Homo sapiens: one gene and its partner. The protein of the gene in region 1 interacts with the protein of each later gene in a pairwise test. Each region holds a gene or a part of one and is shown on either strand. Other genes may lie near its edges. The genes, in order: SIK1 and NMNAT1.

Region 1 (4,507 bases):
ACAGCTCACTGCAGCCTCAACCTCCCAGGCTCACGCCATCCTCCCACCTCAGGCTCCCAAGTAGCCGGCCCCACAGGCGTGTGCCACCACACCTGGCTATTTTAAAAGTATTTTATAGAGGTGAGGTCTTGCTATGTTAACCAAGCCGGTCTCAAACTCCTGAGCTCAACTGATCCTCCTGCCTCAGCCTCCCAAAGCACTGGGATTACAGGCGGGAGACACGACGTCCAGCCTTGTTTTTGTTTAGTTCTCCTAGGAGCGGATTAACAGGGTGTTGGGACCTCCAAAAGGAAAAAAGGCAGTTGTACACTGTTCAGCTGAAAGGAACTAAAAATATTCCCCCGTATTCTTGGTATATAAACCTGGGACAAAGAAAAACACTCTGAACGATTAAGGAAAACTTTGGGACTCTTCATTTCCTTGAAAGCCTTTGAAAACCAACTGACTCCCAAACAACCCGTGTGTGTGTGTGTGTGTGTGTGTGTGTGTGTGTGTGTGTGGCGATTGGGAAATCTGTGGTCAGACCCTCGGGCGAATGAGGAGAAGCTCATCCTCGTTTCTCCGGGCCCTCCTCCCAGGCGTCCGTCCAGGCAGGAAAGCCTCCCGAGAAGGGTTCCAAGTTTTGTGCCAACTCCCCTGAATTCTCGTTCCCCCTTCTGTGAAGTAGTGTTATTTAACACAAGGAAAACTGACCCTAGGCTCGATCCAGAATCTAACTCCCAAATGGGTCCTCAGGCTTAAAAAATACCTTCGCCCACAGCCTCTGTCTCCCCTGAAGAAAACGTTTTCCGTTCGGATGAGGCATCGGCCACGGGCAAGCAAGTGGTCCCGCGCCCCCGTCCCCTACCCAGGCGGCCGGCCTGGCTCCGTCACCGCCCGCAGCGTCCGCCCGGGGCCCGCGCGGGAAGAGGGTCCCAGCCCCACATGCTGCGGGGGCAGCCCCGGGACGCGCAGACGCCAGCGCCGCTGAGGGCCGGGGCCGGGACCGGCCGCGCGGCGGGGGCTTCCAGAGCGGCCGGTCACGCTTCCTTAGGTTTCAAGTTTCTAACTTGCTGAACATTTCAGATTTTAACAGCAAAAGCGGCTGACGTCCCCGCGGGCAAGCGGCCTCTCGGGGTCTGCAGCGCCCCAGGGCATCCGCGCCGCCAGCCCCACGCGCGAGCCCGCGAGGCCCCCGGGCCCCCGCACGTCCCGAGGCTCTGAGTCTGGACGAACGCAGGCCGCGTGGAGGGGCCGGCGACCCCTGCCCGAGAGCCGTCCCCTCCTGGAGGGAGCGAGCACAAGGCGCCCGCGGGACCCGGCCCGAGTGCCCGAGCGTGGAGGGGCGGGCGCGCCCTCGGCGGTGGGGCCGCCCGCAGTGCCCCCAGCGCCCGGGAGGGGGCGCCCGGCGGAGCGCAGGCGGGCGGGCCTCGGGCGGCGGGCGCCCCTGACGTCACCGGCCCGCGGTCGCCAGGGCAACGGCCTCATCCCGCGCGCGTCAGAGCCGCCAGTCTCTTGGCAACCGCCCGATCTCCCGCTCTCCCTCCGCCCGGCGCTCGGCCGCGCGTCGCTCTGGCGTCAAAGCGACGTCAATGGGCGGCCCCCGCCCGGGCGGCGGGGGCGGGGCAGGGGGCGGGGACTACGGGGGGCGGGCCGGGGCGGGCCGGGGCGGGGCCGGGCGCCGCGTGCGGCGGAGCGCGGCGGCTCCGGGCTGACATGCGGCGCGGCCCCGGAGGCAGCAGCAGCGGCGGCGGCAGCCGGAGCAGTAGGCACCCGAGCAGCGCCAGCGGCCGAGCGGGCGGCTTCCTGGCCTGGGCGCTCCGGTGGCGGCGGAGGTGAGGCGGCGGCAGCGGCGGCAGCGGCGGCAGCGGCGGGCTCCGGGCGGGCGGAGGTGGCCGCCGTGGGGGCTCCGCGCGGGCGCCGGGCCGGGGCTCGGGGTTGCAGCCACCGCGCAGGGTCCCTGGCCTTGCGCGCGCGGGGTTCGCGGGCGGGGTTGGCGGCCTGGCCGCCCTCGGGCTCCCCTTTGTTGGGGGGCCGGGGTAGGAGTGAGTCCGCGGGGCTCAGGGGCTGGGGAGCCGGGGGTCAGGTTGGAGCCGACCGCGGGCGGAGATACCGGGTGTGGGGGGCGGGTCCGCGATCCCCGAGGTGCCTGGGATGTCGGGGGTGGGGACCGGACGGATCGCGGGCGGCGGGGGCAGGGTGTGGGAGCGGGGCAGGGGACGGTCCTGGGATCCGGATCGAGCCGACCTCGGGTGGCAGGGCCAGGTGTGGGAGCGGGTCCGCGCCCAGAGGTGCTAAAGGGGTCGAGGGTGGGGACGGAACCGACAGCGGGCGGCGGGAGGCGAGTGTGGAATCCCGGCTCAGGGGGTCCCGGGATCGGGACGGAACCGGACTCGGGCGGCAGGGGCCTCTATGAGAGCGGGTCCGTGCGCCCCGCGGGGCTCAAGAGGGTCGGGGGTCCGGGTGGAGCGGGCGGCGGGGGCGGGTCCACACCTCCCACGGGGCTGGAGGGGCCCGTGGATAGAGTGGGGGCGACAGGCGTGGGAGCAGGTCCCTGCGTCCCGTGGGGACTGGGGGCTCCGCGGGCACGGATGGAGCCGACCGCGGGCGGCGGGGGCGCTGGTGGGCTCTGAGCTCTGTGCGGCCCCGCAGGTGCGCGCGGAGCCATGGTTATCATGTCGGAGTTCAGCGCGGACCCCGCGGGCCAGGGTCAGGGCCAGCAGAAGCCCCTCCGGGTGGGTTTTTACGACATCGAGCGGACCCTGGGCAAAGGCAACTTCGCGGTGGTGAAGCTGGCGCGGCATCGAGTCACCAAAACGCAGGTGCGTGGGGGCGGTGGGACCCAGCCGGCGGGGCCTCCCCACTGGACCCGGGGCGACCCGACCTTTGGCGGGTGGACCCCATGCAGATTCACTGCTCCAGGCTTGATTGTCGTGGTGGGTAAATAGTAACCGTTTTTAGTTCGGTAAAGAAAAATAATGCTTTATATTATGTTGCTGCATAATTTGGACATATATTGGGAGAAAGCAGAGAGGATAATAGCAAAAAAAAGGACCAACCTAAGATTGCAGTGGTTCATGGACTCAGAGCTAAACCCTGTAAAGTGAGCCTGCAAATACTTAAGTCACTTACTTAACTCTGATTATTTTAAATAACATTAGTGGTTACTTTGGTTATGTTTTCCCAACTTCTTGTGACCTTCTGGAGACAGAGTGTTGAGAAATTAACTTGCAAAAAATGAAATGTGTAAATTAGGTTGAGGGTTTCTTTTCTTTTTTTAAAAAAACCCACAGAATATCCTTTTTCTTTTTAAATTTGTAGGTTGCAATAAAAATAATTGATAAAACACGATTAGATTCAAGCAATTTGGAGAAAATCTATCGTGAGGTTCAGCTGATGAAGCTTCTGAACCATCCACACATCATAAAGCTTTACCAGGTAAGGGGTCAGCTTGCCTTTCTCTGCTAATCCTGGCAAATGTGTTATATTTTATTTCCAACAGCATAAGTCTGCAATTTCTGAAGGTGGCTTCCCTTTTGGGGAGTGTGTGGAAGTTGGGCATTTGGTTGTATAAGGTAAATAGATTGATTTTTATAGGCTGTGCAGATATATTTACAATTATTTTATTGCTTTTGGATCATAATTGAGATTTGCTTCATTAGAATTTTATTTAGTATCCTAACCTGATCCAGTTTTAAATGTGTAGAAGTCTGTTGTAAATTTGCTTTACTATGAAAACAGACAAACTTATCTGTAGGTATTGCCACAGGTCACGCATTTAGTATAAAAGGACAAATTTGAGTGAAACTGGAAACTTCTGCCTTTGCAGATAATTATTAAACTTTAAAGCCAGCTGCTCTTACTGGTTTTCATTAGTTTATTTTTGCAAGGACAGTAGTGAGCATTTGTTTTCCCTATTTAAACTCTTCCATGAAAAACGGAGAGATGAAAATACTTTTCCATAGTAAGAGCAAGGAGCTTGTCATTTAATCCATGCTAGGAACATGGCTTGCCCTGTCTCTCTGTTGGTTTATTTTGTGACTTAATTTTTGTTCTCATGTTGAAATTAATAAATTATATCATCAGGAAATAAGTACTAATTTAATTAGAACAGCAAAGCAATCATTTACACCTCCCTAATGACAAATGACCACTTTTGCAAGGTGAAATCAAGTCTTCTTGCAGAAGAAGTTCTTTGCAGGTGCTATTTCATCCATTTGTGTTGGGTTGAAGTTCCTCGTAATGATTCTTATGAAATGGAATGTGAGATGACTCTGGGATGTTGTTGTGTGTGTTTGTGCAATTAGGACAGCTCGGTGTACAGTGTGGTAGGAGAGAGAATTATGATTCGAAATTATCCCCCAAAAGCCTCTGCACTAGATTGAAAATAAAAGTAGCAGTATTGGTGGAGCTTACGACAGTTTGCTCAGTGTCTTTAAGCACAGAATTCATGCCGTGTGCGCCTGGTTTGTGTTTTGTTTCTGTTGTCATTTTTAAGTTGTGTGCTCCATGGCCACTGGTGTACTGC
Region 2 (3,806 bases), on another chromosome or scaffold:
TTTTTTTTTTGTGGAAATGGTTCTCACTCTGTCACCCTGGCTGGGCAGGCTGGAGTACAGTGGCATGATCACAGCTCACTGCAGCCTTTACCTCCCGGACTCAAGTGAGCTGCCTGCCTCAGGCTCCTGAGTAGCTGTGACTACAGGCATGCCACCACATCTGGCTAATTTTTTTTTTTTTTTGGAGACAGAGTCTTGCTCTGTCGCTCAGGCTGGAGTGCAGTGGCATGATCTCAGCTCACTGCAAACTCCGCCTCCCAGGCTCACACCATTCTCCTGCCTCAGCCTCCGGAGTAGCTGGGATTACAGGTGCCCGCCACCATGCCTGGCTAATTTTTTGTATTTTTAGTAGAGACAGGGTTTCACCGTGTTAGCCAGGATGGTCTTGATCTCCTGACCTCGTGATCCACCCGCCTCGAACTCCCAAAGTGCTGGGATTACAGGAGTGAGCCACCGCGCCTGGCCTAATTTTTTAATTTTTTGTAGAAACTGGGTCCCACTGTTTTGCCCATGTTGGTGTTGAGCTCCTGGGCTCAAGTGATTCTCCTGCCTTGGTCTCCCAAAACACTGGGATAACAGGTGTGAGCCACCACACCTGGCCTCGATTTTTTTGTTACATAAATGATCATATAATATGCTGATAGGTAGATGGATGGATGGATGCTAAAGCTCACTATTTGCCTATGACATTGAGAAATGGGCTTTTGCATACATCTAGGTGGACAATACAAATTAAGGCTTTTTACAAAGTAATTTGGCAATATCAATAGAAATTTAACTGTATAGGGGAATGAGGTGAAGTACAGAGTGTCAGTTGGGGAAGATGAGAAAATTCTGGAGATAGATAGGAGCGATGGTTGCACAACAGCATGTTTGCAGTTAATATCATAGAACTGTACGCTTGGGTATATTTTACCATAATTTCAGTCAGTTAATTGATCAGCTAATAAGCTGGAATCCCTAAAGAAAGAGAATCTGTGATTATAAAACAATATTGGCCAGGTGTGGTGACTCATGCCTGTAGTCCCAGCACTTTGGGAGGCTGAGGCAGGCAGATCACTTGAGGTCAGGAGTTGGAGACCAGCTTGGCTAACATGGTAAAAACCCCATCTCTACTAAAAATACAAAAATTAACCAGCATGGTGGCATGCGCCCGTAATCCCAGCTACTCAGGAGTCTGACTCAGGAGAATTGCTTCAACCCAGGAGGCGGAGGTTGCAGTGAGCCGAGATCACTCCAGTGCGGCCTGGGGAACAGAGCAAGACTCTGTCTCAAAAAACAAAACAAAACAAATAATATTGATCGTAATATTTCCTGTGCATAAAGTCTAATTTGTTATACCTAGTGTGAAACCTAACTTTTTATCTAGGAAGGTACACAGTTGTCAAAGGCATCATCTCTCCTGTTGGTGATGCCTACAAGAAGAAAGGACTCATTCCTGCCTATCACCGGGTCATCATGGCAGAACTTGCTACCAAGAATTCTAAATGGGTGGAAGTTGATACATGGGAAAGTCTTCAGAAGGAGTGGAAAGAGACTCTGAAGGTGCTAAGGTATTTATGGTGTAATCAACTTTGTCAGTTCTGTGTAAATGGCTAAGCGGCTTATGTTTTTACCATGTTTCAATGTTGCTTACATCTGTGAACATACAGATTTGCAAAACTGTCACGTGTGTTGTAAGCCATTCCTGTGGAAGGTTACTACAAGACTGTAGAGCACAGCACCAAAGGATGGGTCTTCCTTAGCCCCTCTGTGTCTTTCATTATGTTTTAAGTTGTTTGCGGCCAGGCGCGGTGGCTCACGCCTGTAATGCCAGCACTTTGGGAGGCTGAGGCGGGTGGATCAGCTGAGGTCAGGAGTTCGAGACCAGCCTGGCCAACATGGTGAAAACCCGTCTCTACTAAAAATACAAAAATTAGCCGGGCATGGTGGCGCATGCCTGTAATCCCAGCTACTTGGGAGGCTGAGGCAGGAGATACACTTGAACCCCGGGGATGGAGGTTACAGTGAGCCAAGATTGTGCCACTGCACTCCAGCCTGGGTGACAGAGCGAGACTCCATCTCAAAAAAAAAAAAAAAAAAAGATGTTTGCTTGCTTGCTACTATGTGATACCACTGTTAGAAAATAGAGGAAGCCTGCCTGGGCTTTCTGTGCCCCAAATGAGAAAGGGAAAATTGCAAGAAGATGTTATTATCATCAGTCTTCCTAAGTATAAAAGAGACAGGCAGATAATTTAAGGAAGAGAAGCATCCAGTGCTGCTTGATCATGGACAGGCCTGATTCGTGTGCTGCTTCCATGACAGCATCTGGGCAGGGAGTCACAGATCTCTGTGCCCATACCTTTGAAGCAGTTCTAGTTAAGGGTTCAAAAACCAGAGTAAGTGACATCTAATTATTTCTCTTTTTTTTTTTTCTTTTTGAGACGGAGTCTCGCTCTGTCACCCAGGCTGGAGTGCAGTGGTGCATTCTCGGCTCACTGCGACCTCTGCCTCCTGGGTTCAAGCAATTCTCCTGCCTCAGCCTCCCAAGTAGCTGGGACTACAGGTGACTGCCACCACGCCCCGCTAATGTTTTTGTATTTTTAGTAGAGATGGGGTTCTACCTTGTTGGCCAGGCTGGTCTTGAACTTCTGACCTCAGGTGATCCACCTGTCTCAGCCTCCCAACACCTAATTATTTCTTTTCTTTTCTTTTTTTTTTTGAGATAGAGGTTCACTCTTGTTGCCCAAGCTGGAGTGCAATGGCATGATCTTGGCTCACTGCAACCTCTGCCTCCCGGGTTCAAGCCGTTCCCCTGCCTCAGCCTCCCAAGTAGCTGGGATTACAGGCGCCTGCCACCACGCCCGGCTAATTTTTGTATTTTTAGTAGAGCTGGGGTTTCACCCTGTTGGCCAGGCTGGTCTTGAACTCCTGACCTCAGGTGATCTGCCCATCTCGGGCCTCCCAAAGTGCGGGGATTACAGAGGTGAGCCACCGCACCTGGCTGACACCTAATTATCTCTTAATGTTATTTTGATTTTTTTAAACTTTATTTTCTTTTTTTTGTTGGAGATGGGGCCTCGCTATGTTGCCTATGCTGACTGATCTCAAACTCCTGGCCTCAAGCAATCCTCCCACCTAGGCCTCCCAAAGTGCTGGGATTACAAATGTGAGCTACCATGCCTGGCCTGTTGTTATCTTGAGTTTAAAATGAAAGGGCTTTCTGAAAAGCCTTTCTGTTTAGTATCTGTTCTTAGAGTTCTGAACTTTCCAGTGACTGACTGTATCATTTAGGGTTCAGACTAGGAAATAGAAACCCACTCTGGATATTTTAAGTGGAAAGAGATTTAAGTACTTAGGCAAAAAGTACTTAAAAGAGCTGAGGCCGGGCGTGGTAGCTCATGACTATAATCCCAGCACTTTGGGAGGCTGAGGCCGGCAGATCACCTGAGTCCAGTAGTTCAAGACAAGCCTGGCCAACATGGTGAAACCCTGTCTCTACTAAAAATACAAAATTAGCTGGGCCCATACCTGTAATCCCAGCTACTAGGGAGGCTGAGGCAGGAGAATTGCCTGAGCCTGGGAGGCAGAGGTTACGGTGAACTGAAATTGTGCCACTGCACTCCAGCCTGGGCAGCAGAATGAGACTGTCTCAAAAAACAACAACAAAAAAAAGTAAAAGGGCTGGAGAAGTGGAAGTCAGGGTCACTCCTCCGATGTTGCCGTCAGAGTTCAACAAACCAATTCCGCTTCTGCTGCTATTGAACTGTCTCAGTCTCCTGAAGTTGGTGACGGACAGTGGACTCCAGCGTCTAGCCACCACACCC

The links.
Region 2: the proteins of SIK1 (region 1) and NMNAT1 interact in a two-hybrid assay, tested with the Homo sapiens proteins (one large-scale study listed by BioGRID).

Annotation. Positions count from the first base shown.
Region 1 is NC_000021.9:43,424,317-43,428,823, reverse strand, and holds the start of SIK1 (serine/threonine-protein kinase SIK1), read left to right. Parts: upstream 1-1,692; 5' UTR 1,693-1,814; intron 1,815-2,631; 5' UTR 2,632-2,645; coding exon 2,646-2,801; intron 2,802-3,300; coding exon 3,301-3,417; intron 3,418-4,507. UniProt on the Homo sapiens protein: Serine/threonine-protein kinase involved in various processes such as cell cycle regulation, gluconeogenesis and lipogenesis regulation, muscle growth and differentiation and tumor suppression. Phosphorylates HDAC4, HDAC5, PPME1, SREBF1, CRTC1/TORC1.
Region 2 is NC_000001.11:9,974,223-9,978,028, forward strand, and holds part of NMNAT1 (nicotinamide/nicotinic acid mononucleotide adenylyltransferase 1), read left to right. Parts: intron 1-1,369; coding exon 1,370-1,553; intron 1,554-3,806.